4 separate regions of the Homo sapiens genome follow, and all the other regions are linked to region 1. Evidence: fine-mapped expression QTL. A gene starts in region 1. Each other region holds a variant in brackets. All regions are shown on one strand. Distances are from middle to middle.

The links. PIP is the estimated chance that this variant, and not a neighbour inherited with it, causes the effect.
Region 2: its variant is fine-mapped to the expression of PGAP3 in whole blood (INTERVAL, PIP above 0.99).
Region 3: its variant is fine-mapped to the expression of PGAP3 in whole blood (INTERVAL, PIP 0.92).
Region 4: its variant is fine-mapped to the expression of PGAP3 in whole blood (TOPMed, PIP above 0.99).

The regions. Positions count from the first base shown.
Region 1 is chr17:39,684,150-39,692,251 of GRCh38, reverse strand. PGAP3 (post-GPI attachment to proteins phospholipase 3) reads left to right here and starts at 4,195. Exons shown (of 8, transcript NM_033419.5): 1 at 4,195-4,418; 2 at 6,233-6,330; 3 at 7,503-7,655. The coding sequence starts at 4,238. It also overlaps a transcript of ERBB2 not described here. RefSeq lists a silencer at 2,822-3,116 and enhancers at 2,396-3,356, 4,067-4,176.
Region 2 is chr17:40,063,258-40,071,359 of GRCh38, reverse strand. All of the region lies in intron 1 of THRA (thyroid hormone receptor alpha), which reads right to left. Among named protein-coding and RNA genes, the nearest start is that of THRA, 4.3 kb to the right of the region's middle. RefSeq lists an enhancer at 1-462 and a silencer at 7,893-7,992. The variant GTTTTTC/C (reference allele first, on the strand shown) is at 4,669.
Region 3 is chr17:38,973,339-38,981,440 of GRCh38, reverse strand. No RefSeq gene overlaps it. Among named protein-coding and RNA genes, the nearest start is that of FBXO47, 10 kb to the right of the region's middle. The variant G/A (reference allele first, on the strand shown) is at 3,720.
Region 4 is chr17:39,736,206-39,744,307 of GRCh38, reverse strand. GRB7 (growth factor receptor bound protein 7) reads right to left here and starts at 6,370. Exons shown (of 15, transcript NM_005310.5): 1 at 6,175-6,370; 2 at 1,852-2,056; 3 at 1,592-1,742; 4 at 1,254-1,410; 5 at 1,007-1,128; 6 at 838-915; 7 at 101-238. The coding sequence starts at 2,006. RefSeq lists enhancers at 2,317-2,914, 3,513-4,110. The variant T/C (reference allele first, on the strand shown) is at 4,586.

The sequences.
Region 1 (8,102 bases):
TGGGGTACTGTATATAAGTGTATAGGTGTACATACACATGCATACACACACACATATTTTGTTCTGCACTGTGCACTTGATACTTATCAAAAATATTTGGCCAGGTGTGATGGCTCATGCCTATAATCCCAGCACTTTGGGAGGCTGAGACAGGTGGATCACCTGAGGTCGGGAGTTCAAGACAGCCTTACCAACATGGTGAAGCCCTGTCTCTACTAAAAAATACAAAAATTAGCCGGATGTGGTGGCACACACCTGTAATCCCAGCTACTCGGGAGGCTGAGACACAAGAGATATATATATATATATATATATATGTATATGTATATGTATATGTATATGTATATATATCTATATCTATATCTATATCTATATCTATATCTATCATGAAGGTTTTACCATGCTAGTACATTACAAATCTGCCCCATTCCTATTAATTTCTGTTCAGCCTTCCATTGTATGGCTCTCCCTCCATTAATATAATTCATTCCCTATTGATGGACATTTAGTTGTTTCCTTTTTCTTCTTGCTATTGAAAACAATGACTAATGCTACCACAAATAACTGTACTTAAACAAATTTGCACTTGTTTAGGTATACTGGAGCTTATGTAGGTATACCTAGGAGTGAAATTCCTGGGTTAGAGGGTATGTGTGTGTGTGTGTGTGTGTGTGTGTATATATATATATATATATTTTTTTTTTTAATGTAGATGGAGTCTCGCTCTGTCACCAGGCTGGAGTGCAGTGGCATAATCCAGGCTCACTGCAACCTCCAACTCCCTGGTTCAAGCAATTCTCCTGCCTCAGCTTCCGGAGTAGCTGGGATTACAGGCACGTGCCACCATGCCCAGCTAATTTTTTTGTATTTTTAGTAGAGATGGGGTTTCACCATGTTGGCTAGGATGGTCTCGATCTCCTGATCTCATGATCCGCCTGCCTTGGCCTCCCACAGTGCTGGGATTACAGATGTGAGCCACCGCACCTGGCTTCAGTCTTTTGTTTGACACTTGTTTATGGCCTGTTTCCCTCCTCTGACCATGAAAAGTACAGTGCCTTGTTCATCACTCTGTTCCCAGAGACTTGCACATGGTAAACTTAATAAACATTTGATGAATAAGGAACCCACATTGTAGACTCTCTACCAATTTTGATCTAAGAACATGGTCAGCTTGCCGTTGAGCCTTTAGCACACTATACTTTTTTTTTTTTTTTTGAAACGGAGTTTTGCTCTTGTTGCCCAGGCTGGAGTGCAATGGCACGATCTCAGGAGTTTCTCCATGTTAGGTCAGGCTGGTCTCGAACTCCTGACCTCAGATGATCCACCTGCCTCGCCCTCCCAAAGTGCTGGGATTACAGGCATGAGCCACTGTGCCTGTCCAGCACACTCTACTATTAACATATGCTTTGTCTTTTTTTTCCCCCATGAGTACAATGGCTGATACACAGGAGGACTCAATAAGCCTGAGTTGAAGGAATGAATTAGTGACTTTTCAGACTGTGGATCACATCTGAAGCCAAATACAAGTTAGGAAGAAGGACAAGCTAAGGAGGCTCAGGGGAGAACTAGGGGCTCCAGGCTAGAAAGTTGGGAAGAGAGGCCAGGTAATCGCCATCTAGAGATTGTTATCTGGGGCTGTGCTGGCAGGGAAATTCTCAAGAGCTGTCCCAGAGAGACAGTACCCCATCTTCCAAGAAGTCAACAGAACAGAAGTCTCTACTCCCACTTCCACCATTAACCTAGGATTGCTTTTTCCATCAGGTATGTAGGCATGGGTTTTCAAGGACCTCTGAAATACTTTAGACCCGAACAAATTTCCATTGTTAGTTCTAAAATATAAGAAAGCTGCGAAAATTAATATTTTATGGCCGTGTGGCATGGCTCACGCCCGTAATCCCAGCACTTTGGGAGGTTGAGGCGGGAGGATCACTCGAGCCCAGGAATTGGAGACCAGTCTAGGCAACATAGCAAGACCGTGTCTCTACAAAAAATTAAAAAAATTAGCAGGGCATAGTGGCGCATGCTGCAGTCCCAGCTACTCAGGAGGCTGAGATGGAAGGATCACTTGAGTCTGGGAGGTTGAGGTTGCAGTGAGTCGTGATCATGCCACTGCACTTCAGTCTAGGTGAAAGAGTGAGAGGCTGTCTGGGAAAAAAAATTTTTTTTAACTAAATGTATATAAATGTAGCAATATGTCAACTATTAACAGCAATTAGATTGAATTATATATATGTATAGTTATTTATAAATCTTATTTAATGTGGGGCGTTACTGCATTTCAGTATGTTTGACATAATATAGGATGAGGCCTTCAAAATTGGAATTTTCTTTTTCTTTTTTTTTTTTTTTTTGAGTTTCGCTCTTGTTGCCCAGGCTGGAGTGCGATGGCGCAATCTTGGCTCACCACAACCTCTGCCTCCCTGGGTTCAAGCGATTCTCCTGCCTCAGCCTCCTGAGTAGCTGGGATTACAGGCATGCACCACCACACCCAACTAATTTTGTATTTTTAGTAGAGATGGGGTTTCTCCATGTTGGTCAGGCTGGTCTCAAACTCCTAACCTCAGGTGATCCGTCCGCCTCGGCCTCCCAAAGTGCTGGGATTACAGGCGTGAGCCACCACCCCCAGCCTTACTTAGGAATTTTCTAAAGGGGAGACTCCCTATTTTGTCAGGATTTCATCCTCTTTAATCCTAAATGTCCATCTTTATATGAGGATCCTCATAAAAAGACTCATCCCAGAGTCACAGAAAGGACAAAATGAAATGAAAAAAGAAAAAAAAACAGTATTGTAAAAGAACTAATCTGTAAGATGCAAAGTAGTATTAGCACTGGATTTCCGGTCAGCTCCTGGAGGGCTAAGGGGTTGTTTTGTTCATTTCAGCTTCTCAGTCAGTATCAGTTGGGTGGTCAACTCCAGGGGACACTATTCATGTTATATTTAACTGGAAGAATTTGCCATTCACAGAAAAGGCAATGTGAATGCTGCTCCCCAGAGCACCATTCACAGAAAATGCAATGTGAATGGTGCCTCCTGGAGATTTTGCCTTGCTTAGCAAGGTGCTAGAGCTAAGGACTCAGAAATGTTTGTTAAGTGAGTGAATGGAATCCCAGGCTACTTCTTACTCATTCCAACCCCCAGGACGAAAAAGAAAAGTTGACAAGGGGTGAGGAGAGTGGGGGAGGAGAAAGGGTGATCCTTAGCTACAAGGCTTCTATGAGATTGGGTGTGGGTCGGTGCTGATGGGAGTGCAGGGGAGGTGAGCAGGGAGAGGATACTAAAGCAAGCGTCCTGTTCCCAGGGTTCCTAATTTTCCTAGAAATATTACTTCTCTCCGATCTCAGTGCAGAACCATACTGATGATTTTACAGCCCTGGATTTGTCAAGTTCTTATGTTGATGTATGCTGTTCATTCATTAAACAGAAGAACAAACAAACGCAGTTAGCGCCTACCATAAGCCAAATTCTGTGCTGGAGGTAGAGTGGTGAACAGGACAGCAAAGGTTCTACCCCGCATGGGGAAGCAATCACCCTCGGGAGGTGGTACTTCAATTGCGACTAGAAGAAAAAAGAAGAGTGAGTGATTCAGACCAGGCCAGGCAGTCAGGAAGCTTGAGGGACATAGCCCTCTGAAGCGGGTCTGGAGCAAGGGAGTGAGGGAGACCAGTGGACAGGGGCCAAATCAGGCAGGGTTTGTGGAGACTGTATTTTACCCAAGGTAATTGGGAGCCAGTAAATAATTTTAAGAAAAAAAAAGTGATATGGGCAAATTTTAATTTTTCAAAATGGAGCGCAGGTTGGAAGAGGCAAAAGTAGAGGCAGGGAGAGCCATTAAGAAGCTACTGCGGCTGTCTTGGCGACACATGATGGTGTCTTTAACCAGGGTGGTGCCAGAAGAGATGGAGAGAAGTGGATAGTTACAGGTACGTTTAGGAAGTAAAATCCGACAGGGGTGGTGACAGTAAACAGCCCTACCTCAAAAAAGATCATGGAAAACACTTCAGTTTGCTCATTAACCCATCAGGCGTCCGCCTTCCCTTAACCCTATCGCCTCGATATATGGACACAGCAGGGGGACGAGGGGCGGGGCAGGCGCCCACAAAAATCCGGGAACTTTAATTTAAACTGTGTGGACTTCAGCGGAGAGTAGAATAAAGAACACAGGAACTTCCGGTTACTCCGGAAGTGGAAGCTTCATACTCCTAAGCTCCTCCCCCGGCGGCGAGCCAGGGAGAAAGGATGGCCGGCCTGGCGGCGCGGTTGGTCCTGCTAGCTGGGGCAGCGGCGCTGGCGAGCGGCTCCCAGGGCGACCGTGAGCCGGTGTACCGCGACTGCGTACTGCAGTGCGAAGAGCAGAACTGCTCTGGGGGCGCTCTGAATCACTTCCGCTCCCGCCAGCCAATCTACATGAGTCTAGCAGGTAAGCCCCACCCCCACGGTAAGCCCCGCCCATTTGTCTTGCTCCCGCCCCCTGCGCCCCCAATACGCCTCTGCAATCCCTGAACCTTAGTTTCCCCACGAGGTCTCTTATGAATGTGAGTGAAGCCCCTAAGGTGATGAGAGCCTTACCAGCCTCTCTTACTTTCCCAGAAGCTTTCATTTACTTATTTGTTCAGTCAAAAGGGTATTTATTAAATACATTCGGGCCACAATGTCTAGGAATGGCACAGAAATCAGACCAGGGTCCCGCCCATTGGGACTCACAGTCCCCACGGGGACATGAGCCTTTTCAAGTGCAAGGCAGAGAATGATTTGAGCCCCTGAAAGACTCTTTGATTAGGAAGCATTTGGGATAGGAAGGTGTCAGTTCCGGCTTTGAAGACGTGGGGGCAGGGATCATCTTGGAACGTTTTGTTTGAAGGAGGGACTTTGGACTGGTACATTCGATTTGGACCATAGTGGGCAAAGAACCAACGTATTGAGCACTCACTGTGTGACAGGTGTCACAATATGTCAAGTAATTTTTATCACACCCTTTGAGATAGTTTCTCTAATCCCAGTTTTACAGATGGGGATTAGAGAGATTAAATGCCCTGCCCAAGGTCACACAGCCAGTATGTAGTAAAGTGGAGTTTCCAGTTCTGGCCTGTTTGACCACAAGCTTGTCCTCTTTACTATTATACCACTTTGCATTCCAGACAGAGGGAACAGAGAGAATGGATGCCCTGGGCAGATGTGGGCACATCCAGGAGCTTTATTTACTCAGGGAGCAGGGTACATGAACAGGAGTAGTGACCAATACGGTTGGAAAGGCAATTTGGAGCCTCAAAAGTCAGGTTGAAGAATTTGGGCTTCATTTTCATAGGAAGGGAGTAAGATAGCAAGAACTCCTTCCAGGAGAGTAAGAGCAAATCCTATATTCAGGAAGGACAAATATAAACCCAGGTTTCCATAGATGAGTTCATCAGATGCCAACATCTTGATGGACTTGAGCAAAAGGAGAGGAAATGTCTGCCAAGGTAGAAAGATCATCTGAGCCCTGGAGTTCAAGACTAGCCTAGGCAACATGACAAGATGCCTTCTCTACAAAAAATAAAAGAATTAGCCAGACATTGTGGTCTCGCTACTTGGGAGGCTGAGGTGGGAGGATCGTTTGAGCCCAGGAGGTCAAGGCTGTGGTGAGCCATGCTCTCCCCACTGCACTCCAGCCTGGATGAAAGAGCGAGACCCTGTCTCAAAAAAAAAAAAAAAAAAAAAATGCCGGGTGCGGTGGCTCGTGCCTGCAATCCCCGCACTTTAGGTGGCAGAGGCAGGCAGATAACCTGAGGTTGGGAGTTCAAGACCACCCTGACCAACATGGAGAAACCCCATCTCTACTAAAAATACAAAATTAGTTGGGTGTGGTGGTGCATGCCTGTAATCCCAGCTACTCGGGAGCCTGAGGCAGGAGAATCGCTTGAACCCAGGAGGCGGAGGTTGCAGTGAACCGAGATCGCACCATTGCACTCCAGCCTGGGCAACAAAAACAAAACTGTCTCAAAAAAACAAACAAAAAAAAGACGAATATCTCTAATTGCTCACTAAAATATGCATACATACGTACATACACCTTCCCCTATGTGTACATCTCATCATCTCTCATTCATTCAAAGGGGAAGCTAGAATTTTGAGATTTCTCCTGGTTCTCTCCAACTTACAGGCCCTCTTGGCCTACATTTGCGCTTGGACCCCATTCATGCTCTCTCTTTCCTCTCTGTGCTGGGGAGTTCACCAGGCCACATTTGTCTGTTTCAGGCTGGACCTGTCGGGACGACTGTAAGTATGAGTGTATGTGGGTCACCGTTGGGCTCTACCTCCAGGAAGGTCACAAAGTGCCTCAGTTCCATGGCAAGGTGAGTTGGAGGGTCAGGGTAGGCATATGGTAGTAGCGTGGTAGGAGTAATATACCCCCTGGTTGGACCACACTGTCCAAGCAGTCTGAGGCATGGGGTAATGCGTGTGTGTTTGGGGCAGCTACCTGTTCTCCCCAAAATCTGCTGGTTTCCATAGAATTGGATAGGACCCATGTGTCCTGCCTCTGGATTTGGAGTAGCAATATCTGGAAGGCTTTGGAGTCTCCCCAGAGAGTGGTGCTGGGCCTCTTAGAGTGGTTGAGATGCCCACCTTACTGCAGGGACAAATTCCCTTACCTACTGTGGCTTGTTTCCTGTTGCTTCTCCAGTAGGGGTCTGGATTCACAGTAATATGCTTCAGCTTGTCTAGCGAGGCACAGTTTGCTGGTACCTTTCTTTCTTTTGTTTTTTGTTTTTTGTTTTTTTTTTTGAGATGGAGTCTCCCTCTGTCGCCCAGGCTGGAGTGCAGTGGCATGATCTTGGCTCACTGCAACCTCTACCTCCCAGGTTCAAGCAATTCTCATGCCTGAGCCTCCCAAGTAGCTGGGACTACAGGTGTGTGCCACCACACCCAGCTAATTTTTTGTATTTTTTTTTTTTTTTTTTTAAGTAGAGATGGGGTTTCACCATGTTAGCCAGGATGGTCTCAATCTCCTGACCTTGTGACCCTCTCGCCTCAGCTTCCCAAAGTGCTGGGATTACAGGCGTGAGCCACCGCGCCTGGCCTGCTGGTACGTTTCAATCCAGTATTATCTCATTCTGGCCTGTTGAGGTTGGCAGGAAGTATTCACCCCAGTTTTTCACAGAGTAAGCTGAGGCTCAAAGGACCGTGGTCAGTGGTAGAGGAGGGGTTGGGACCTGTGTCTTCTGGATGGCAACTCTGTGCTGTTTCCACCAGGCCATACTGAGTCATCTACCCTGACCCATCTGGTCTTCCCAGAGATCAGGGCTTACAGTGCTGTGCCTGCTGGCCAGGATGGGGGTATAACTCTTAACTAGGCACTGGAGGGTGGCTCATTAGTCTGAAGAGGTACTGAACCTGAGGCTTTGGCCAAACTCCAGAGCTGAGGACTCAGCTGAGGACCTGTTGCTTCAGCATGTCAAGAATAGGTGGACTGGGCCAGTTGAGGGTTGCCTGCCCTTCAAACCTCCTTCATCTGCTCCTTTTTCAGTGGCCCTTCTCCCGGTTCCTGTTCTTTCAAGAGCCGGCATCGGCCGTGGCCTCGTTTCTCAATGGCCTGGCCAGCCTGGTGATGCTCTGCCGCTACCGCACCTTCGTGCCAGCCTCCTCCCCCATGTACCACACCTGTGTGGCCTTCGCCTGGGTAGGTAACCTAGCAGGACTCCTGCTGTCTCCTCTTATCTAGGAAGGTGGAGCTCTACATCCCTATTAACACCCAACAGGGCTTCTACTTACCAGCTTCCCCTCTGTTTCCCAGGGCTAAAGTTGCAGCTGCAGGGTGGTAAAGCCTGGGGAGAAAACAGGGAGGGTGCTGAATCGGGCCTTACCTTTCCAGCAGAGCCCTAGGTCAGGCTGTTTGGGAAGGAGAGAGGAAAGAAGGGCATTTTTCTTGTCCTGAAGAAGGAAGCCACTAAAAGACCCAGTAGGACAGTTTACAAACACAGAGGGGAGATGGGGGGCTAAAGAGGATGCTGGGACCACAGGTCTTTCCAAGGGCCCTTCTGGAGGACTTGGAGCAATCTCAATTCCAGCCCAGGCCTGGTGGGGAGTCACAGCCATAGTCTCTGTGTAGAGCTCAGCCTAGTCTTTT
Region 2 (8,102 bases), 380 kb before region 1:
CTCTGCAGTCCTGTATATCTGAGGACACCCCCAAAGGACTCCTGGGGCTGCCAGAGGGGAGTTTCTGTCCCCAGGATCTAACCCCCAATACTACCCGCATTAACCCTCCTGCGTATCTGCTCTGGGCTTTGGCCCCACCTTTCTGGGGCCCCTGAACTTTGTCCTTAGTGCTCTGAAGAAAGCCCAGCCCTCCTTGCCAGCCACAGGGACACGTACATGCGGGGCGGCTGAGAAAAGGGTGGAAAGATGGGAGGAGGGGTAAAAAGGCTGGTGGGGGAAAGAGGGAAGAAGGGAGGAGGGGGAAGAACAAAGAAATGGGACAGGGCTGGGGTAGAGCTAGGGGTGACAAGGCAGTAGAGGGAGAGGAAGAAAGGGGAGCCAGAGATGGGGGATGGGGAGAAGGGGTGAGGTAGAAAGGAGGACAGATAAAGGGAGGAGAGACACATGAAGGAGGGGAGACAAAGAGAGAAAGGTAACAAAGAAAGATGGGTGGGGGGCTTCGTACCCTGTCTAAGTCCCACCCCATGCAGGCTGGGGGGAGGGGGGCGTAGGAATGGTTTCCACGGTGACAGCTGGTTCTTGGTGGCCTGGCATGTGGGCTATTAATAGTTCTGTGGGTAGGTTCACACCTCCCTCTCCCCTTCCCCTCTGCCTGCTGCTAGGGTGGGGGGAGATCCCTCCCCCACCACCCACTCCTGATCACCCAGCCTCCCACCATGGGAGCCAGGAAGGGCGATGCTGAGGGGCCGGGGCGGCCACCGTGGCCCAGACACATAAATGGGCATGCATGGGCACAGGCGTCTATGGGCAGCACTGCCCCCCATGCCAACACGGGCACCACAGGCAGCCACCCACACCAAGGGCCCCTGGGAGTCTGTGGTGGTGGCAGTGCTGCAGCAGCGACATGTGCCCCCATGCTGAGGGGCAGAGGCCTCTCTAGGACCGGGACTCCCTGTCCTTTCCCATACCCCCTGTTCTATTCTCAGGTATGGATTGAGCAGGGCTGCCCCACCCAACTCTCTGTTATCCTAGTGCCAGGAAGGAGAGGAGGAGTGAAGGCGGGAAGGAAGGTACTATTTGGCAGGTGTGATGTGGCAGAGGAGTACACACAGACTCAGGGCCCCAGCCTGGCAGGCATGGGGGAGACGGGAGGAGGGGAGGCGGCACCCCTTGGTGAGCTCTCACTGGGCCCCCAGGAGACAGGTTCTGGAGCTGGGGGGCAGTGACTCATCACCTAGCCACTGTGGGACCTTAGAGGCTAGAGAATGGGAGATGGGGTGGGGATCCTCATAAGGGGGAGATTGGTTACTTAAACAAAGGATCCTCCCCACCCCGCCCCAAAAGAATATAACAGGAAACCCCCCCTGCAGGTCAGAGACAGAAAGACATAAACAGCAGCCTTGACTTGGGCCAGATGCCCAGTATTAACATCAAAGACTGCTTCCCACTCGGCTCCCCCATAGCCTCACCCACCTGCTGCTCTCCTCTCCCTCCTCCTGCCCGGGCCAGCTCCAGCCAGGCATCAAGGTGGGTGCCCAGGTCTGGAGGTCTCCTCCCAGGTCACATCCATCCCCCATGACCACTGGTGGGTGGTCATGCCCACACCCATGCTGGAGAACTCAGCCCCTCCTTATCAGCCCACAGAACTTCACGCCCCCCCTGCCCAATTCCCCTCAGGAATGGAGGCAGGAGATCCAAGTAGCCAAGAAAGCAGAAGCAGGAGCACCCCCAAGCTGGGCACGGCACATTCTCCCCACCCTCCCCCAGCAGCCAGCGGGTAATTGGAGCTGGGAGCTGGGGCAGCTGAATGCTGGAGGCATGAATGTCACGGGGCCAAGGCACTTGCTGCAGATGGCACCATGGGCACAAGGCTTGGGGTCCTCCCTCCTCACTCCCTCATCTAAGGCAGTAGAAGAAGTTGCCTGCAAGCCCTGAAGAGCATGGCCTAGGAGGGGAGGGAATGGTGGAGGGGGAAAGAAAGGGAGGGATGTTCTCCCAGGCACCCCAGAGGCTGGAGCTAGCCCCTAACCAAGCAGAACTGGCAGAGGCAGAGAGAGAGAGACAGAGACAGAGACAGAGAGACAGGGACAGAAAGGGAGGAGGGAGGGAATAGGAAGGAGGGAGGAAGGGGGAGGGAAGAGAGAAAGATTGAGAGTGTGTGTGTGAGAGAGAGAGAGGGAGGGAGAGAAGGAGGGAGAGACAGAGAGGGGGAGGGGGAGAGAGAGAGGGAGAGGGAAGAGGAAGGGAGGGAGGGAGAGAGAGAGGGAGGGAGAGAGGGAGGGAGAGAGCGCGCGCGTGAATGCAGCTGAGTCTCCGGCACACACACGGACACGTGCAGACACACACACTCACCCCGCATGCGCAGAGCCACAGGGCTCTGGGTACCGTTCCAGGAGATATTCAGAGCCCTCCCCAGCCCACACATGCACAAAAACACTCTCACATGGATGCGTGCACAACACACCCACTCACTGATGTGTACAAAAATGCCGAAAGACACCAAAGCCTCGGTTCCCCTGTTTCCCCACCCCCATGCCTGGTAAAAGAGAAAAAGAAACAGGCAGCTGGGGCTCTGGGAGCCAAGAGCCGATCTCTTCTTTAGAAGAGGAAAAGAGGAGGAGGAGGAGGTGGGCCAGGGGCTTGGTCCAATCATTCTGCTCTTGGCCACTGCTGAGGGGCATGGCTGAGGCTTTGGTATCAACCTTTAATGCCCACCCCCAAAACAGCGAAGCAAGGATAGTATTTCCTGGGCACCAGTAACACCCATCTTGCTTCCCTTGTCTACCCAGCAAACTTCTGACCCTCCCTCTGGACCACCTCACGCAATGGCATACCGGAGGGAGGTCCCTATGACCCCAGCTTTGGCCTGCCAAGTGACACCAAGGTGGAACCACATGTGCCCCCACCACACACCAGCCCCAGATACTTCAGTGAGAGACTGAGAACTGTCTCTGGTTCCAGGCAGCATGTGTATGCCCCACCCTGGCATGTGCCAGGCCCTGGGAAAAAAGGAGAATCCACAGGCATTGCTCACCATGCCAGGATGCAACATGGATTGAACACAGGGGTCATCCCACCTTGTGTTATTTGCCCTCAACCTGAGTGAGACAGGAACCATTGTCTCTAGATAATGAAAACCCAGGCCCAAAGTCATACGACTAGTGAATGTCAACAGCCAGGCCTCCCAACTCCCAGCCAGTGATCTTCCCACCACGGTCATGCTTGCCTCCCTCCCCAAGAGACACAACAGTTCTCCAAAGTCCCCTAGACACCTTTGCAGCCATGAGAACTAGAGTTGGGTTTTTTGTTTTGTTTTCTGTCTGTTTTGAGAGGATGTGTGTGTGGGGGGTCTCACTCTGTTGTTCAGGCTAGAGTGCAGTGGCACAATCACAGCTCACCGCAGCCTCGACCTTCCAGGCTTAAGCGATCCTCCGGCCTCAGCCTCCCAAGTAGCTGGTAACACAGGCATGCGCCACCACACCTGGCTAACTTTTTAAAGTTGTTTTTAGAGATGGGGTCTCACTATGTTGACCAGGCTGATCATGAACTACTGGCCTCAAGTGATCCTCCCGCCTTGGCCTCCCAAAATATTGAGATTACAGGCATGAGCCACTGTGCCCAGCCGAGAACTAGAGTTGAGATTGGTTCCCACTCCAAAGGCTTCCCGTCACCCCTACAGGGTATCCTCCCATTGTCCTTCCTTCACCTTGAGGGGCAGGGCTAAATAAAAGGGGTTTGGAGAGGGGATCCTGATCACCAGACTCACAAAGGCAAAGAGGCAACCCAGGACAGATGCTGGATCTCAAAGTGCTGTGCCCACCACACTGGTCATTACTCAGTGCTTCAGTTTCTCTCTGCCACCACCTTTCACACTAAGTACCACTCCATGGAGGGCAGGGGAATCTGGTGCCTATCAGCCAGAGCTGGGTCCTGGTTGACCAATGCTGGGCTCCCAGGAGGGAGGAAGGGCACTGCCTCCTCTTTGAGCCCACACATAAGAGAGGGGACGGCTTTCCTTGTTCTCTCTCTCCCACCCCCAGAGCTCAGACCCTGAACAGAGATGCAGTGATGCCCAAAGATTTATGCAGGTGCCCCTAGCTGGTGGGGTGTGTCCCAGGCTGAGGGGCCAAGGGCTCCTTGTAAGCTGAAGGGCGAGGGTCAAAGGAGGGTGGGGCAGAGGGGCCTGCCTTGGGCTCTTTCCCATACACTCATTCCAGGCTGCAAAAATTTGTCTGGGAGGAAAAGATTACATGACGGTGAGAAGGCTGGAAATTGGAGACCCACTGCCCCAGGCCCCAGTCTCACTGATGTCTAGGAGACCCAATTCTCCACGAAGCTTCTCTAAGAAATCTGGGAGACCCCAGGCCCACAGCTTCCTTCACCCATCACAACCGCTCACATATACAGTTTGTTATGAACTAGGCACTTTTAAAAACATTTTTCCTCAAAAAAGCTAAATGAGGTAGATATGATCATCCCCAATTTACAGATGAGGCAACGGGGAAGTTAAATCGCTTGCTCAAAGTCACACATCCAGCAAGTGACAGAGCTGGGATTCAGACCTAGGCAGTCCAGGTCAATCATGGCCGTCATGATCATCACCATCATCTCTGTTCTTAGCTGTGATGGTATATCACCTGCTTGATAGATAATGCCTTGTTCTTTTTT[GTTTTTC/C]TTTTTTTTTTTTTTTTTTTTTGAGACGGAGTCTCGCTCTGTCACCCAGTCTGTAGTGCAGTGGTACAATCTCAGCTCACTGCAACCTCCACCTCCTGGGTTCAAGCGATTCTCCTGCCTCAGCCTCCTGAGTAGCTGGGATTACAGGACCCCGCCACCACACCCAGCTAAGTTTTGTATTTTTAGTAGAGATGGGGTTTCACCATCTTGGTCAGACTGGTCTTGAACTCCTGACCTCAGGTGATCTGCCTGCCTCCGCCTCCCAGTGTGCTAGGATTACGGGTGTGAGCCACTGTGCCCGGCCCAATGCCTTGTTCTTTCATCCAGCTATGTGTTCCCTGAGACCAAGCCTCAGTCTTTCCCCTCTGTAGCTGCCCTGTGGGTTCTCTGCCAAGTGCCTCCACCTCCAAATAGTCCAAGGCTAGAGGGGAGCATAGCGAGAAGTGCTTGGTGCCCCCGGGCTCGATGTCTCCTGCCTGAGTTCCCCCTCCTCAAATTCCCTCTCCAGAAGAGGTACCCCTTCTAGGCTGGAACCTGCACTCACGGGTGGGAGGGCCTCGCTTAGTACATACTTAGTCTAGGCAGCTGTGCCCTCAGAACCAGGCCCTGAGGCTGGGCAAAAAGGACACAGCTGTTGGGCATCTCTGAGGTGGGCCTCAGCTGCCAGGGGTGTGGAGAAAGGCCATTGTGAGCCCTGCAGTGGACCCAACTCAGCAGGGTCCTGCCAGCTCCCGCCACTGCCCATGGGGGCGGTTCTTTTCCAGCTTGGGCCAGTGTGGGGGGAGCCTCTTCATGGCTTGTTTAAGAGCTGCTAGCTGGCTGCAGCCTGCACCCTGAGGGTGCCCACAGAACTGGTGTCTCCAGACATGCAGGCCCGAGGGGTCAGCATGGGCAGTGGCTGACCCCCCCCCCCTTCCCCCATTCCCAGCCCCTAAAACTTGCTGGCCACAGCTGCGGCACTAAGGAAGTGCAGGAAGTCCTGAGCAGCCAGCTGAGCCCCCCGCCCCCCACCCCAACCTCAAGCTGACCCCAGAGGCTGCGCAGGGGGGGCAGAGGGGCGGAGCTTGGGTATTAACAACTGGAAAAGTATGAAGAACATTGCTGCCAGTCCCCAGCTCTGAGACAAGGACAGGGGTAGATCGGGGGTAGCAACAGGGTGAGAGAGAGTTACAGACTGGCAGAGAAACAAGGAGAGAGAGAGGGAGAATCAGACACTGCAAGACAGAGCAACAGAGAGACAGAGTTAGAGAGAAATTCCAAGTCAAAAGTACATATCACTCACACAGACACTCGCCAGCCGATGGCCTCTTAAGGAAAGCTTCCAAGTTTGGACAGGAGGGTACAGGTGGGAAAAAGGGCCAGACTCAAGGTGGGGCGCAGGAACTCAGCTGGAAGTGACTGACTGTTCCCAGGAAAGACCCAGGCAAATGACTCAGAGCAGGGGCAGTTAGACACCCCTGAGCTTTTAGGGTAGGGAGGAGAGCAGCTCTCCCCTTCCCCAACAGTCAAGAGAATCCTAGCTTCTAGAAGTCACTGGACACTGCTTTGAGCCCATGACTCGGCCCTCTGGAACCCCCCTGAACCCACTGTCTTTGCTCTTGTTTCTCTGTCCCTCTAAAAGAAAGAAAGAAAAAAAAAACAGCCCATTCCCGCACAGTGGCTGAGCCTAGAGGAAAAAGGGGAGGAGGAAGCTGAAGGGGAAAAATTTGTGATTGTGTGCATCTAAGTGTGTGCTCGGCTGCACAGGCTGCAGTTGTGTGTATCTGGGGTTGTGTGGACACGACTGTTGGTGTGGACCTGCAACTGTGGGGACCTGGGCCTTGTGAACTCATTCTGCACCTGAGTTCAGGGGACCATGTGCAAATGAGTGCACCTGTGTCTGCAGGTTCCACAGTCAATCAACTAACAAGTATTTACAGAGCAGCCCTTGTGCTAGGCTCTGCGTGGGATCCAGAGCTCTTTAAGTGATTCTCCCAGGTCTCCAAGAGCTCACTGTCTAGTAGGGTGGTATCTCAAGCGATAGAGACCAAGAACATGTCATTGGGAATGCATGCTTTACACCATTACGCAGGAACACTTTTTCATACAGCCAAATTTAATATTCTTGGGAGCAAGGGTTTTGTTGCCTACAGAACCTCAGAGCTCCACAGTAAAGAGTCCAGGAAAATACTTGTTGCTAAGTTGTGTATACATGTGTTGGTGTGTAACTGTGTTTGCATCTGACTGAGTGACAGCGACTGTCACGGCAAGCAATGATGTCTGTGTGACTGGGCTCATGCGAGCACGTGTGTGCCTGTGAGTGACAGGGTCTTTTGTAATTGTGCTGCTGTGTGCAATTGCTCTGTGTGCATGCATGCATGTGACAGTGACTTTTTATGTGTGGGTGACAGCAACTCCTCCTTGCCCCAGTGTGTGACAGCATCTACGTGTGACCCTGTGCGTGGGTATGTGCATGGATCGGTCCCCATGCTCTTGGTCTCCCATGGGTATATCCCACCCCTCAGAGCTCCACGGTGCAGCAGCAGCCTGTCTCTTCCCTTGTCCCCATGTGGGTGTGTCCAGTAGCTCCTGTCCTTGAGTCTGCCTGGGTGTCCCTGGATGTGCATGTGGCTGTCTGTGTGGACATATCTCTGTGTCTGCGTGTCACTTTTGCTTCCCCCCTCATTTTGGACAACAGCCCCCTTCATCCCCTCCCCCTCCTGGAGCCAAAGCCAGCACTGAGGGGCAGGCTCCCACCTCACTGGCTTTCCTTCTGTGTCCCCCACCCCCACCCCTGGAACGGTGGTTCTTTCAATTGCCCCTGTCATCCCCCCAGGCCTTTCTTTCACGCTGGACAAGGGAGGGCCCCAGATGGAGAAGGGGCACCAGAGACACGTTGCAAGGGGAGGGAAACAAGGTGGGGTACACACACACAGGTCCATTTCTCCCTCTCCTCCCCAGCCAGCAACTCTCCTAATCATCTAGGCACCACCAAGTACACCCCTTCCACACACACATTCCCCCCCAACAACCGCGTTTTTGCAATTAGCAGTGTTGCAACCAGACAGCCATGCTCAACCGGGAGGCGGGTGAGGCGGGGGAACTTCCCTCTCCCCGGACCCGTGCAAGCCCACCCGCGCCACCGCACTCATACTGCCCTCCGCAGCTGGAGGCAGCTTTGCAAAGGCCACTCGGGCCTCAGAGGCTAGGGGTGGGGGCTGGGGGGGCAGGCCTCCGGCGCACCGTAAACAAACCGCGGCGCGGCGGGCGGGGGAGCTCCGGCGGCCGGCAACGGGGCCCGGCCCGGGAATGCGCAGCAGACTGGCCGGACAGAGGCCGGGCGGGCCCTCCAGGGGGAGGCTCGGACGCCATCTCCGCCTGCGAACCCCGGGGCCCAGCGACCTCCTAGCAACACCTCCCTTCCCCAGGGCGTCAGTTGCAAGCTCCCG
Region 3 (8,102 bases), 710 kb after region 1:
TTTGAGACCAGCCTGGTCAACATGGTGAAACCCCATCTCTACTAAAAATACAAAAATTAGCCGAGCGTGATGGTGGCGGTCGCCTATAATCCCAGCTACTCAGAAGGCTGAGGCAGGAGAATTGCTTGAACCCAGGAGGCAGAGGTTGCAGTGAGCCGAGATCGCGCCACCGCACTCCAGCCTGGGTGACAGAGCAAGACTCTGTCTCAAAAAAATACAAAACAAAACAAAAACTAACATGGGGCAGTGCACTTCTTTTGAAAGAAGTCAGGAAAAGATTTTGGGAAAATGAGGTAATGCTTACTCACGGCTGTGCTATTTGTCCCTCTGTCTCTTAATTTCCCAGACAAAACTATTAACTGGCTTAGATATCTGAATACACTTATTTATTGCCGTCTTTCAGTTTATAATGACACCCACTTAAAAATATCCAAAACTACTTTCCAACCCTTCTCTATCTCTTCCATTTGTGGTAAAATAATATACAACAGTGCATATTTTAAATATTTTTTCTAACGACACAAATAACATAGGCTGGGATAGAGATAGCTTAGAAAACCCAGAAATGCATAAAAGAAAAAAGAACTTGAACCTCCCTTAATCTTGCAGTGCAAAAATAACTACTGCTGACATATTAATAGTGTCACCATCCTTTCCAGTCTCTTATATACTTATATGTACATTTCCCTCATAAAATAGGATAATACAGCACATATGATTTTATAGTTGACTTTTTAAGATAGCACTTTCCCAGACAAAATTTGACATGATCCAGATGTAATTACACAAACTGGCTTCATGCCAGGATACTGGGGTGGAAAACCTTGGGAAAGGCTTTTACCTCCTTGGGCCTTGGTGCCCTTGTCTGAAAAATGAGGAATTTTTTTCCAACCCTAAAAACCATTCCTCTGCCAAAGCATGTTTTTGGATGAAATCTTGTCACCATGTCACATTCTCATGTGAGACGGCCCCAAGTGCCACATAGCCTTAGTTTGTACATTCTTTTATTTTTGGTTAGTATATATTTTTTTCTTTTCTTTTCTTGTTCTTTTTTTTTTTTTTTTTTGAAACAGGGTCTTGCTCTGCACGGTGTTGTGATCATAGCTCACTGCAGCCTTGACCCCCAAGCTCAAACAATCCTCCAGCCTCAGCCACCCAAGTAGCTGGGACTATAGGTGCGCACCACCACACCTAGCTAATTTTTGTAGAGATGGAGTTTCACCATGTTGCCCAGGCTGGTCTCTGAACTCCTGGACTCAAGTGATCTGCCCGCCTCCCAAATATACTGCTGGGCACTGTGGCTCATGCCTGTAATCCCAGCAGTACATTTTTTCTAACTACCCCATGCAAATCACTTGAATATGCCTTATTATGTTTGCTAGCAACTTTTATGATTCACCTGACTAGTCTTTAAAAATAACGAGTAAAAAGAAAATATTCTGCTGGGTGTGGTGGCTCATGCCTGTAATCCCAGCACTTTGGGAGGGTGAGGCAGGTGGATCACTTGAGGTCTGGAGTTCGAGACCAGCCTGGCCAACATGGTGAAACCCTGTCTGTACTAAAAATACAAAAATTAGCTGGGCATGGTGGCGCACACCTGTAGTCCCAGCTACTCAGGAGGCTGAGAAAGGAGAATCCTTGAACCCGGGAGGTGGAGGTTGCAGTGAGCCGAGATCGTGCCATTGCACTCCAACCTGGCTGGCAGAGTGAAACTCCGTCTCAAAAAAAAAAAAAGAAAGAAAAAAAAATCCGTCTTTTTAATAAAAACAAGGAGGACAGGCCGGCTGCAGTGGCTCACGCCTGTAATCCCAGGACTTTGGGAGGCCAAGGCAGGCGGATCACGAGGCCAGAAGACCGAGACCATCCTGGCTAACATGGTGAAACCCCATCTCTACTAAAAATACAAAAAATTAGCTGGGCGTGGTGGCGGGCGCCTGTAGTCCCAGCTACTCGGGAGGCTGAGGCAGGAGAATGGCGTGAACCTGGGAGGCTGAGTTTGCAGTGAGCCAAGATCGTGCCACTGCACTCCAGCCTGGGCAACAGAGTGAGACTCCATCCTCCGTCTCAAAAAAAAAAAAAACAAAAAAAACCAAGGAGGACAAAAGGGAAGTTAAAAACCCATCAATTGTTCAGCTTTACTCTTAGTATTTAAATAAGTAAATAAACGAAAGTATAGGATGAAGTCACTATATTTCAATTCAATTCAATTTAAACAAGTATAATTTTGTAGGAAAAAGAGATAACAAACTTAGGGACCAAAGTAAAGCAACATCAATAAAAGATGAGAAATATCTCAGGATGGAATAAGGTTTGGAAACTTGAAGCAAGTCAAGCTAGAAAGGAAACTACTTTGTCTAAAGAAGGGAAGTTAGAAGTAGATTTAATTGTTTTCAATTATATAAAAGACATAAGTCAATTATGTTTCTTCTCTATCAAGAACAACAGGAAATTGGTTTAGGTTGTTGTTAGATTAATGTAGACATTAAAAGGCTATTGATTAAGGAATGGGAAACAGAAGGTAAAATGTATGAAAAATGAAAAATGTGCTTACCTTTTACAGGGACTGCTGTCATACCCTGATATCTGCTCCTCCCTTCTTTTTTTTTTTTTTGTTTGGCACACAGTCTCACTCTGTTGCCCAGTCTGGAGTACGATGGCACAATCTCTGCGCACTGCAACCTCCACCTCCCAGGCTCACGCAATTCTGCCTCAGCCTCCCAAGTAGCTGGGATTATGGGTGCTCACCACCATGGCCAGCTAATTTTTGTATTTTTAGTAGAGACGGGGTTTCACCATGTTGGCCAGGCTGGTCTCAAACTCCTGACTTCAAATGATCCACCTGCCTTGGCCTCCCAAAGTGCTGGATTACAGGTGTGAGCCTCTGTGCCCTGCTCCTGTCTTCCTATATAATAGTAGAATCCGCTATTTTTTAGCTGGGCACAGGGCCTTCCAAAATATTTTCCCATTGGTAGTGACCATGTGACTAAGTTCTGGTCTTTGAAGTATATGTGTGTAGGGGTCCCTTCTTCCCCACTTCCTGCCGGCTGAGATGTGCACATGATGGCTTGAGCTTAAGCAGCCACCTTGGGCCATGAGGTGGAAGCCACAGGTTGAGGATGCGGCTCAACAAGATAGAAGGAGCCTGGGTTTCAGATGATTGTGGAGCTGTCACACCACTCCTGACTGCTTATCCGAGGACTTTATGTGAGAAAAATAAGCTTCTATCTTGTTTAAAGTACTGTAATCTGGGATTTTCTGTCACTTGCCTATGATAATTTTAAGCAACATATTCTTTTTCCTTTTAATATTTGGTTTATTAGACTTACACATTAAAATCCAAGTTTTCCCTTATGCTTCCAAATTCAGGTTAAAAATCTTAATATTCTATTTATGAATCTAATAAATTTTAACAACCACGTTTAGTGGACTTTGAGCCTATTTAGACCTATTTACAATCACATCTCCAAATATTTTAAATTGTATTTGTCTAAAAACTGCATTTTTTTTGTTTGTTTTTGAGACAGGGTCTCACTCTGTCACCCAGGCTAGAGTGCAGTGACATGATCATGGCTCACTGCAACCTCTGCTTCCTGGACTTAAGTAATCCTCCCACCTCAGCCTCCCCAATAGCTGGGACCACAGGCACATGCCATCATGCCTGGCTAAATTTTTGTATCCTTTGTGGAGATGATTTTTTTTTCAAATATATATATGTGTGT[G/A]TGTGTGTGTGTGTGTATATATATATATATATACACACACACACACACACACATATATATACACACACATATATACACATATATATACACACATATATGTATATATATACACATATATATACACACATATATGTATATATATACACATATATATACACACATATATGTATATATATACACATATATACACACATATATGTATATATATACACACATATATGTATATATATATACACATATATATACACACATATATGTATATATATACACATATATATGTATATATATATATTTTTTTTTAATTGAGACAGAGTCTCTCTACATTGCCCAGGGTGGTCTCAAACTCCTGGGCTCAAGAGATCTTCCCTCCTCAGCCTCCCAAAGTGCTGGGACTACAGGCATGAGCCAATGAGACCAGACTTTTTTTTTTTTTTTTTTTGAGACAGGTTCTCACTCTGTCACCCAGGCTGGAGAGTGCCGTGGAGCAATCTAAGCTCACTGCAGCCTCCACCTCCTGGCCTCAAGCCATTCTCTCACATCAACCTCCTGAATAGCTGGGACTACAGGCACGTGGTAATTTTTTTTTGGAGATGGAGTTTTGCTCTTGTTGCCCAGGCTAGAGTGCAATGGTGCCATCTCAGCTCACCGCAATCTCCACCTCCTGGGTTCAAGCGATTCTCCTGTCTCAGCCTCCCGAGTAGCTGGGATTACAGGCGTGCACCACCAGGACCGACTAATATTTTTTAATCTTTTGTAGAGACAGGGGTCTCACCACATTGCCCAAGCTGGTCTCAAACTCCTGGACTCAAGTGATCCACCTGCCTCATCCTCCCAAAGTGCTAGGGTTACAGGTGTGAGCCACTGCACCAGCCAAAACTGCATTTTTATATGTACTCTCTTTTTTATTTATTTATTTTTTATTTAATTTTTATCCTAGTTAACAGATATAATCTCTTTTTTAAAATGCTTTTTTTTTTTTTTTTTTTGAGGCTGGAGTGCAGTGGCGCGATCTCAGCTCACTGAAGCCTCCACCTCCCAGGTTCAAGCAATTCTCCTGCCTCAGCCTCCCGAGTAGCTGGGATTACAGGCGTGCGCCACCATGCCTGGCTAATTTTTTTTTTTTTTTTTTTTTTTTTAGTAGGAATGGGGTTTCACCATGTTGGTCAGGCTGGTCTCGAACTCCTGACCTCATGTAATCTGCCCACTTCAGCCTCCCAAAGTGCTGGGATTACAGATGTGAGCCATCACACCCGGCCTTAAATGCATTTTTAATTGTGGTAAAATACATGTAAAATTTACCACCTTAACTATTTCCACATGTACAGTTCAGTGGTATTAAATACATTCATAATGTTGTGCAACCATCACCACATCCTGTCTCCAGAAACTGAAATTCTGTACCCATTAAACAGTAACTCTGGACGGGCACAGTGGCTCACGCCTATAATTCCAACACTTTGGGAGGCTGAGATGGGTGGATCACCTGAAGTCAGGAGTTTGAGACCAGCGTGGCCAACATGGTAAAAGCCCGTCTCTACTAAAAATATAAAATTAGCTGGGCGTGGTGTCAGGCACCTGTAATTCCAGCTACTCAGGAGGCTGAAGCAGGAGAATCACTTGAACCCAGGAGGCGGAGGTTGCAGTGTGCTTGAGATTGCACCACTGCACTCCAGCCTGGGCAATAGAGTGAGACTTCATCTCAAAAAAAAAAAAAAAAAGTAACTCTCCACTGCCCTCTCCCTCCAGGCCGAGGCAATCACCATTCTACTTTCTGTGTCTATGATTTTGACTACTCTAACTTCCTCATAAAAATTGAATCCTGGGCCGGGCGCAGTGGCTCACGCCTGTAATCCCAGCACTTTGGGAGGCCGAGGCAGGCGGATCACGAGGTCAGGAGATCGAGACCATCCTGGCTAACATGGTGAAACCCCGTCTCTACTAACAATACAAAAAATTAGCCGGGCGCGGTGGCAGGCGCCTGTAGTCCCAGCTACTCGGGAGGCTGAGGCAGGAGAATGGCGTGAACCCGGGAGGCGGGGCTTGCAGTGACCTGAGATAGCGCCACTGCAGTCCGGCCTGGGCAAAAGAGCGAGACTCTGTCTCAAAAAAAAATTGAATCCTGGCCGGGCACGGTGGCTTACACCTGTAATCCCAGCACTTTGGGAAGCCGAGGCAGGTAGATCACCTGAGGTCAGGAGTTCGAGACCAGCCTGGCCAACATGGTGAAACCGGGCATGGTAGCATGTTCCTGTAGTCACAGCTACTCAGGAGGCATTTAGCAGGGCATGGTGGCATGTACCTGTAGTCCCAGCTACTCGGAGGGTGAGGCCAGAGAATTGCTGGAACCCAGAAGGCAGGGGTTGCAGTGAGCCCAGATCATGCCTGGGCGACAGAGCAAGGCTCCATTTCAAAAAATATATATACATATATTTTTTTTTTCTTAAAACCAGAAATAGGATGATGATGATGATGACAATGATGATAATTAAGAGCCATTGGGATGATCTCTCAGTTCTTCGAAGGCTATACATTTCGAAAGGTAATTTTATAAATGCAGAGTAGCAAGAATAGTACCAAGAGCATTTCTTATTCCTGAATCCTTTGGGGAAAAAAATTTTTTTTTAAATTAACTTTTGAAAGTTTATCCTAAAAGAGTATACAAAATGATTATTGCAGCATTGTTTAAAAAGAAAAAAATTAGATGGTTGCTCACGCCTGTAATCCCAGCACTTTGGGAGGCCCAGGCAGGCGTATCACTTGAGGTCAGGAGTTCGAGACCAGCCTGGACAACATGGTGAAACCTCGTCTCTACTAAAAATACAAAAATTAGCCAGTCACAGTGGCATGCGCCTATAATCCCAGCTACTCAGGAAGCTGAGGCAGAAGAATCGCTTGAACCCGGGATGCGGAGTTTGCAGTGAGCCAAGATCGTGCCACTGCACTCCAGCCCAGGCAATAGAGTGACACTTGGTCTCAAAAAAAAAAAAAAAAGGCAAAAATTGGAAACAATCTAATAATGATGCAGAACCAATTAAACAAATTTGTATGATATATCTTTATGGTGAAATGCTATGTAGCTAGTAAAAATGAAAAATGATGATATGTATGTATATTTCTTGGCCAGGAAAGAGTCCTTTAGGAAGGAAATATACTAAAGTGTTATCAGCAGTTACCTCCTGGTAGAAATATTGGATTGATATGGGGAGAATAGAGAGACTTGTGTGTAATTTTTATATTTTTCTGCAGTGAACACTGATTTCTTGTGGGAATTTCAAAGTAATTTGCTTTCTTTCTTTCTTTTTTTTTTTTTAAGAGAGAGACAGGGTCTCACTCTGATGCCCAGGCTGGAGTGCAGTGGCTCAATCACAGCTAACTGCAACCTCAAACTCTTGGACTCAAGTGGTCCTTCTGCCTCAGCCTCCCAAGTAGCTGGGACTACAGGCATGAGCCACCATGCCCAGATTATTATTGTTTGTTTGTTTGTTTGTTTGTTTTTTAATTTTGTAGAAACAGAGTCTTGCCATGTTACCCAGGCTGGTCTTGAACTCCTGGCAATAATCCCACCTCAGCCTCCCAAAGTGCTAGGGTTATAGGCATAAGCCACCATGCCCAGCCTAAATTAATAATTTTATGAAAAAATCTAGGCCGGGCATTGTGGCTCATGCCTGTAATCCCAGCACTTTGGGAGGCCAACGCAGGTGGATCATTTGAGCTCAGGAGTTCCAAATCAGCCTGACCTACATGATGAAACCCCATCTTTACTAAAAATACAAAAATTAGCAGCTGGGCTTGGTGGCGCATAACTGTAATCCCAGCTACTTGGGAGGCTGAAGCAGGAGAATCTCTTGAAACCCAGAGGTGGAGGTTGCAGTGGGACGAGATTGTACCACTGCACTCCAGCCTGGGCGACAGAGCAATATTCCATCCCCTCCCCACCGAAAAAATATTGTTTCAGTCAAAGGAATCTGTGGAATCTCCTTCCCTGGAGTTTTTTTTTGTTTGTTTTTGGGGGTTTTTTTGAGACAGAGTCTCACGCTGTTGCCCAGGCTAGAGTGCAGTGGTGCAATGTTGGCTCACTGCAACCTCCACCTCCCAGGTTCAAGCAATTCTCCTGCCTCAGCCTCCCAAGTAGCAGGGACTAGAGATGCGCACCAGTACACCTGGCTAATTTTTGTATTTTCAGTACAGACAGCGTTTCATCACGTTGGCCAGGCTGGTCTCAAACTCCTGACTTCAAGTGATCCACCCGCCTTGGCCTCCCAAAGTGCTGGGATTACAGGCATGAGCCACCGCGCCCAGCCTCCCTGGAGTTTTTATAGAATGTTACAGGTAACCAGCTGTTTTTAAATAATTTAGGCTAGCCCTCTTCCTACTCTGCAATTT
Region 4 (8,102 bases), 52 kb before region 1:
GCCCAGGGGGAGAAGGGCTCAGAGGTTCCAGCAGAGAAGGGGCAACTTCTAAAAGGACCAGGGACTGGAGGGGCTGGGGCTGGTACCCTCAAGACCTTACCTTAGAGGTGCCCTTGGTGGAGTAATAGAGGCCAGATCGGCGCAAGAAGCAGAAAAAGCGTTTCCAAAGCTTCCGTCCTGAACCCCGCAGCTGCAGAAAGCCCTGGATCTCAGGAAAGCTGCCAGCATTCAGGAAGTTCTGAGCCAGAGGAGAGCAGAGGAGAGTGACAGGTCTGACCTCCTCCCTTCCCCTCTACCACCAGGATGTTTCTCTTTTTCTTTTTCTTTTTGAGACAGGGTCTCATGCTAGTGCGGTGGCACGATCACAGCTCACTGCAACCTCGACCTCCCGAGCTCAAGTGATCCTCCCACCTCAGCCTCCCAAGCACCTGGGACTACAGGCTCATGCCACCATTCCTGGCCTTTTTTTTTTTTTTTTTTTTTTTTTTGGAGAGACGAGGTCTCATTATGTTGCCCAGGCTGGTCTCAAACTCTCAAACTTCTAGGCTTAAGTAATCCTCCCGCCTCAGCCTCCCAAAGTGCTGGGATTATAGGCATGAGCCACCGTGCCCAGCCCACCCTCAGGTTTTTACAAGGAAATGCTCCACATGCATTTCTCGCCCCCATTTAATAGAAGAAACTGATGCTCAGGCAGGGAAAGTGACTGTCCCCAGTCACACAGGACTGTGATTTGGCTCTTTCTACAACATAGAGGGGAGGCACAGGACTTAAGGGTGGAGAAGCACTGGCCAATGCTGGGGAGTCGTGAATCTGCAGTGAAATGGGGGGTCCCCCCACCTGGATGAGGTCTTCATGGGATATACCAGTGTGTGCATCGAGACAGCTGGAGACCATTTTTTCTGGGAACAGGGAGTGCTGTGGGTAGACAAGTGTCAGGGATCAGGGCTCCAGCATCCAGGTTGAGGATCAGGGCATCCCAGCGCCCAGACAGCCCTCATGCACTCACTGGGGAGCTCTTGAACAGTTCGTACTTGGCGAAGTTTTTCCGGAAGACGAAGCGGCTATCTCCGCCCACGGGCCAGGCAGCCTGCACTTCCACCACGGACTCGTGGTCCTCCAAACCCCGCTCTGGGGACAAGGGCAAAAAGCAGGGGTTATTGGAGATCAACCAGATCTCCTGGATGAGCCACATGCCTAGCCCAAGATGCAAGGCATCATCTCCCAGCCCGGATAGTTCCATGCACCTGACTTACCCAGTGCTAGGTGGGGGTGGCACTCCACCAGCCCCCAGGTCTCGTCGCTCAAGGCGTGAGCTCGCTGCACCAGCATTTCACACACGTGGCGAGCTGTGGCACCTGCTGCCACCTCCACAGACCTGCAGGCCCCATCCTCACTGTACACCTTTACTACCTGCGCCCCAGGAATTGCACACGACTTGAGGGGAGGCAAAGGGTGATTCATTCCCTTTCCGCACCTGCTAGACCCTCAGGGACTCCTAACCAAGATCCCCTGCCTCCATGGAAGCGGCTGTGTATCTCCCACAGACCCAGAACCCGTGCATCCCTCCCTTCCCTTCTGAGGGACAACTCACATGGGGGCGGCTGGCATCGCGGGGGAGCAGCCCCCTTGCACTGGAGGGGCCCCCGAGAATTGGGCTCTGTGAGGGAGGACTGCAGAGCTCAGGGAAGGGGTTGGGGATAGAGGGGAGGGAGGTGGCACGCCTCTCCTCCTCTCGAAGTTTCCTGTGGCAAGAAGAAAAAGGGAGAGAGGTGTGGGGAAGGGAGCAGTGGCCTGCAAGCCTCTGTGTATTATCCAGCACTGACCTCCCCCAAGCCCCACGCCCCATCGTACCTGCCGGTGGTTGGGATGAGGAGAGGCTGGGACCTCTTTACCTCCTCAGGCAGAGGGGTATCAGGGGGCCGGGGAGTCCCAGGAGGGGTCCCAGGGGCTGGGCAAAGGTCTTCCGGAGAGCTGCTAAGATGAGGTGGAGACAGATCCAGCTCCATGGCGTCTGAGCAAGAGAGGGGCTTAACGGAACCAGTTGTGTGCCCTTGTCCTGGGGAGAGGGGATGAGAGAATTCAGACCTCCTGACCTCACACGGCGGTTAGGGTGCCCCTCAGAGTTTACCTAGCACCTCACTGCTCTAACTGGAGTTTCCCTGAAGCCCTTGGGGAAGGACAGAATGAGCCTCATTTTACAAAAGGGGACACCGAGTCTCTGAGAAGAAAGCATTCTTGCCCTCAGTCACAGGTGAGTCGGGAGTAGAACCTGTGTTTAGACTCCAAGTCCAGTGCTCTTTCTGTTTTTTTTCTCCTTTTTTTTTTTTTTTTTTGCAGCGGCGTCATCTCCACTCACTGCAACCTCCACCTCCTGGGTTCAAGTAATTCTCGTGCCTTAACCTCCCGAGTAACTGGGATTACAGGTGCCCACCACCACGCCCGTCTAATTTTTGTATTTTTAGTAGAGACAGGGTTTCACCATGTTGGCCAGGCTGGTCTTGAACTCCTGATCCGCCCGCCTTGGCCTCCCAAAGTGCTGGGATTACAGGCGTAAGCCACCACGCCCGGCTCCAGTGCTCTTTCTTTAGCACAAAGTTGCTCACAGGAAGAGCTGAGGGTCCACCCACCACAAGCCTGGTGGTCACAACAGATTTCACAACCCACAGACTCTCAGGCTCAGCCCTCAGGGTCAGGGCAAAGGCCCACTCCTTTGCCTCCACGTGTGGGGCACTCACTGCGCTGGGCTGTGCCCCGGGTTTTTCCAGCACTTTGTTGCCAGACCCAGTTGCCAGAGCCTGTTCATACTTGGCGAGGTTTGGCCTGCCCAAGTGATGAGTGATGCAGAGGGGAGAAGGAGGTGGGGAAGGATGGGAGTCAGAAAGGCAGGAGAGCGGGCTCCGCTGCAGTGCAAGGGGGAGAGCAGGGCCTGGGGTAGGGGTCCTGGCCCCAGCAGCCCCCAAACCTTGCGTACCCTCCCCAGGCCATCCTCCTGCCCAACTCTTTCCTGAAGCCCCAGTGCTAGAGCCACCTCCTCTGAGAAGCCTTCCTGGCCTTCCACATTCAGACTGAATGACTCTCTCTCAGCACTGTGCGGGGGCCGCATCATCCATTACTGTGCACCTGTCCTATCCACCCATTTGTCTGAGGGCACCTGGTACCCCCAGGCAAGGCCAATCTCACCCATGTCTTATCACTTATAGGGGCTGCACAGACACTCAAGACAAGTAAAGACAGGACAGCAGGCAAAGACGAGCACTAGAGGTGGAGGTGGGGCTGGCACCTTCTCCGCAGGAACCCAGCAGACCCCTTTGGCCGGGCTGAGACCTGGGAGAACCTGCAATCCCAGCCCCCAGCCTGTTCTCCAAACACTGGGCCAGTACTATGAGGCCACCTGGGGCACCTGGGATTGACCCCTCAGGAGGGAGCAGGCACCTGACCCTTCAGTGAGGGCATCAGGGGATTTGGGGGACAGGTGAGTCAGGGCGGGCGGGACAACACTGCCTAGGGCTCTCCATTCAACCTTGACTCATCCACACAACTTCCTGGCTTAGGAGAAACAAAAACAGCCCTGCCTCCACCCTTCCCCCAACTCCCCAACCCACTGCTAGCCAGAGCGGAATGGGGGAGGCACGGGGCTGGGAACAGGATGGGGGAGGAGGATGTGGGCCTGAGGCTCCTGACATCACCTCCTCCTCCCCACCCTCGGCCTAGCTCCAGGCCAGGTGGGACCTACGATCTGCTCTCACCCCCAGTCCCAAACCACCTCCTCGCCAGGGAGTCCCTCGCCTGGGAAGGAGAGAGGCAATGCCCGGCCTGGATTCAGAGGCCCATTTGGAGAGAAGCCAGCATCCCGGCGGTGCCCCTCCCCACCCAAAGCATCGCTCAGAGCCCCTGCCCTGTGTGGATGAAGTTCCTCCTGACACATTCTCCTGGGTGTCCCGGCCAGAGGGGTACCACAGGAGCAGGAGTGGAAAGGGAAAACACTCAAGAAGACAGACAGGATGAAAGGCCAGGGAGGGGGCTCAGGGTCCTGCCAGGAGGGGCACGACACACCCATCACCCGCTAGCAAGAGACACCAGCACCTCAATACCAGAACACAATCCCCCACTCCCACCCCAGTCTAACCTCCAAACAGCCCCGGTCTCCAAACAGCCCCAGTGACTTCATTCCAGGCTGCAGGGGGCCACGCCTGCCTCGAAATCACAGACCAACAGTGGGGTGGGGAGAGGAGCAGAGAATTCGGGAGGGCAGTGCTTGGAAGGGGTTAGAAGTAGATTCAAATCACATTAGAGCCTGGCCTCAGAGATCAGAGAGGGCCAGTCCAAGGCTGGGGTTTGCCTTCAGAGCCCCCCAGCCGTGCCCTTAAGCTTCTAAGGCTGGAGGCGGGTGGAATCGTCAAGACCAATGGGGTGAGCAGGGAGGAGGAAGGGGTCCTGGCTGTGGGCCTGGCAGCTTAGAGATCTGGAGTTTTCAAACTGAGGCCCCGGTAAAGCTTCGGTTGGAAACACCGACCCCCAAAATCAGTTTGTCCCCTCAACGAGGTAACTCCGTCCGTGGCTTCCCAGCTGCCTCCTCCCCCAGTGG[T/C]TCCAGCCCCACCCGCGTTCCCGTCCTCCCAACCTCCTTGTTTACTTCCTGAATCACGCCCCACCTGGCTGGCCCTAAGGGCAGGTGGCGGGGCCCGGTGTTCAGGGCCAACAGAAAACAACTCTGCTTCCCAGAGCAGGGGGAAGGGCTTGCGGGACTGAGGCCTGGGCCAGGGGCCTGGATGTGGCGGGAGAGCCCCCGTCCGCCCAGTACTCCACGCCCCGCCCCCACGGGAGAGGCTTATAATTTTTTAGGGTGCAGGGCCCAGGTGAGAAGGTGAGAAACCCCTGGATGACTCCTAGTATAAGGGAGGACCCAGGACTCTGAGGCCCCGCCCACTCTCACTCAGGAAAAATACCCAATGGGAGAAGGCGGGGCAGCTCTTTTAAAGTTTAATTCGGGAAGAATGCTGGAGTGTCTCTGCAGTTAATCATTACAGGCTGCCCGCCTCCATGAGGTCCCCCCACCAAGCATACAGTAGGATATCAGGAGAGGGGAGAGCAGAGTCCAAGACCGGCGGACCAAAAGAGGGCATTCCTGGGGGGCGGTGCGGCTAGTTGGGGGGCGGGGTGGGGGGCGTTCCACCTTGCCGGCAGATGCATTCATTCTCTGTCCTCAATCTGCCAGGGAGACCCAGACCGGGAACCTGGGTCTCTCCCTAGCCTCATCAAGCAGAAGAAACCATCTGCTATCCCCCACCCCACTCTCCCCAGGCCCCACCGCACTGCAGAGCCCCTCATACACCCCTCCAGCCTTCCTGCCCATTTCATGCTGAAGCCAGGAGGGACCCCGTCTCACCCGGCCTCCACTTTCCCATCGGAGGGCCGGAGGCGGTGTTGCTGAGAAGGGCATACAATCTGGAGAGATGAAGCCTCGACAATTTAGAGGATCCCTCTCCTTCACTGCCCTCCAAAGTGGAGGGGGCCCTCCCCACATCTCCCCGCAGCCCGCAGAGACGTCTGTCTTAGAGACTTGGGGAAACCCAAACTGGGGTAAACTGGGCGAGCCAGAGAGTGAGGGCGGCTCTCCCCGGGTGTGCGGGGAGGGGCTAGTTTCAGCGGGAAAGCCAAGTCGGAGGAGAGAATCAGGTCTTCCTTCCCATTCTCAGCTGCTGCCTGCAGGGAGGTGTACAGGGAGGGAACAAGGAGCGCTGGAAACCAGGATGGGGACGAAAAGAGGGCGGGTGGGGAGGAGGGGGCAGGGTGGGAAATGGACAGAAAAGAGAAAAGTGGGAGGCCAAGCAACCCATCAGGAGACCCAGCCTTTCCCTACCGGCCTCCAGACCGGCCGTGCCTGCCCCCAAAGGATAAATGCCCGCTTGGGTTCTTACCTGAACCCCGAGCGTCAGGACACCCGGCTGGGACCACGTCTTCAGGGAGGGAGACGCCAGGCCCTTAACTACCTGTCCCCCTCCAGCCCCCGCCCCTGGCCTGACATCACCGAGCGGGGGAGGGGGAGAGCCAGGTGGCTCCAATCCTCCCACCTGGGCCGCCGGCCAGTTCAGCCGGAGACTGGCACAGCCTGGGGCCCTGGTGCGGCTGGGGGTTGCCTGGCAGGCTGTCGTCTGAGACCGATCTCGGTCCCCTTACCTGGAGGAGCCCCAGCAGGAGTAGCAGGACACCCGTTCCGAAGTCTGGCTCCGTCTAGGAACCCCCAGATTCCTGGATTTTATTTCAGATCCACTCCCGCTTCTCTACAGGTGGTAGGAGGGTGTCCCGACTTCGGACAGAGAAGTCAGAGGCGGGGGGGAGCCCTGTGTGTCCAGATTCCAGGCCCAAGGAAACTAAAATTATCTTGGGCAGATGGGGGCGGGTCCAGGGGAGGCGCCTGGGAGGAGGAAACCTGGGAGGAGGGCGGAGACTCCCTGACTACGCCAACTGGGATTGTTTTTGCCCTTCCTAGCCTGGCAGCAGGTGCCAAGGGAGGATGCAGGTGCCTGGGGAGAGGCGGGGAAGACAGCCGAACAGACAGTACCACGAGCGAAGATCAAGAGTCCCGACCACCTGGGAGGGAGGGGGGAGGGCCTGGGGGCTGCAAGGTAAGGGGAACCACCCCATCCACTCTTTTCCAACACCCTCCCCGAACCTGGTCTGTTCATTGGCCAAGCCTGGGGGCCTGTCTGCAGCTCTGGATCCCACCCCATGGGGCAAAGAGCACCCTGCCGAGAGGGACGCCAGCCAGGGTGGTGTCCAGCAACATGGCCTGCCCCTCGATCTGCAGTCACCCTTACCGTGGTGGCTGCGCCCTGGCCCCTCAGAGGTACCCAGGGTAAGCCCTCCCTCCCCCGCCCCCCACCTTCTGAGCAAAGTCCAGAGTCTTGGCTTCTCCTTTAAAATCGAGGGGGTTAGGCAGGGTGGCACAGTGGGAGGAGCCATGGTGACCTGGAGAAAGCTCTGGCCTGGGCCCCTGGGGATTCCTCTTAGAGGGATCACTTTATTTTATTTTTTTTTGAGCCAGAGTCCCGCTCTGTCACCCAGGCTGGAGTGTAGTGGTGCCATCTTGGCGCACTGCAAACTCTGCCTCCCAGGTTCAAGCAATTCTCCTACCTCAGCCTCCGGAGTAGCTGGGATTACAGGCGCCTGCCACCACACCCAGCTAATTTTTGTATTTTTAGTAAAGATGGGGTTTCTCCATGTTAACCAAGTTGGTCTTGAACTCCTGACCTCAGGTGATCTGCCCACCTCGGCCTCCCAAAGTGTTAGGATTACAGGCATAAGCCACCACGCCCGGCCTGAGGGAACACTTTAGTTCTCTCAGGGATCACTTTAGCTGTCTCATTCAGTGCTGGGCAAACACAGGGTACTTGGGAGAGGGGTTAGGAGGTGGAGATCAAAGGCTGCGGCCACCACCCAGCTTGATGTGGGTGACAGGAAAACAAACAATCCTTAGGGTGATAAGAGGTCCACCCTGGAAGGGGCACGAATGAGTGGCTCCTGCCTCAATTTTCTCCAGAGTTTTCCTAGGAAAACCGGTATGAGTGGGCCCAGCAAAGAAGTGGGGGAGGAGGCAAGGTCTCTTTGGTGATGGAGCAGCTTGTGCAAAGGCAGAGTAGACAATTCACTCATTCATTTATTCAACTATCTGTTTAGTACCTACCATATGCCAGCCCCATGTTTTGTGCTGGGGATACAGGCGTAAACAACAAAAACAGACCCCGCCCATCCTCACACAGCCAATCAGGAAGATTGATGTTAACCAAAGAATCACACAAATAAGAAATGACAGGAGACAACTATGCTGGGAAAATGACTCACATAGGGAGTCAGGAAAGACTTCTCAGTGGAGGTGACAGCTGAGCAGAGGAGAAGCTGGCTGACATGGGAAGGGGGTTGGAATCGGTGGATGGGAATTGGGGAAGGAGGCCACTTTCCCCAGTGAGGAAATCAATGCCAGAGCTCTGGGCAGGAGGAGATGCAGCATGCGGAGACAGAGAGTGGGGTTGGAGGAGAAGGGAGGAAGCAGAGGCCACGTGGGTGAACCTGGACAGGTGTGGAAGGTGTGGAGAGAGGAAGCTGTG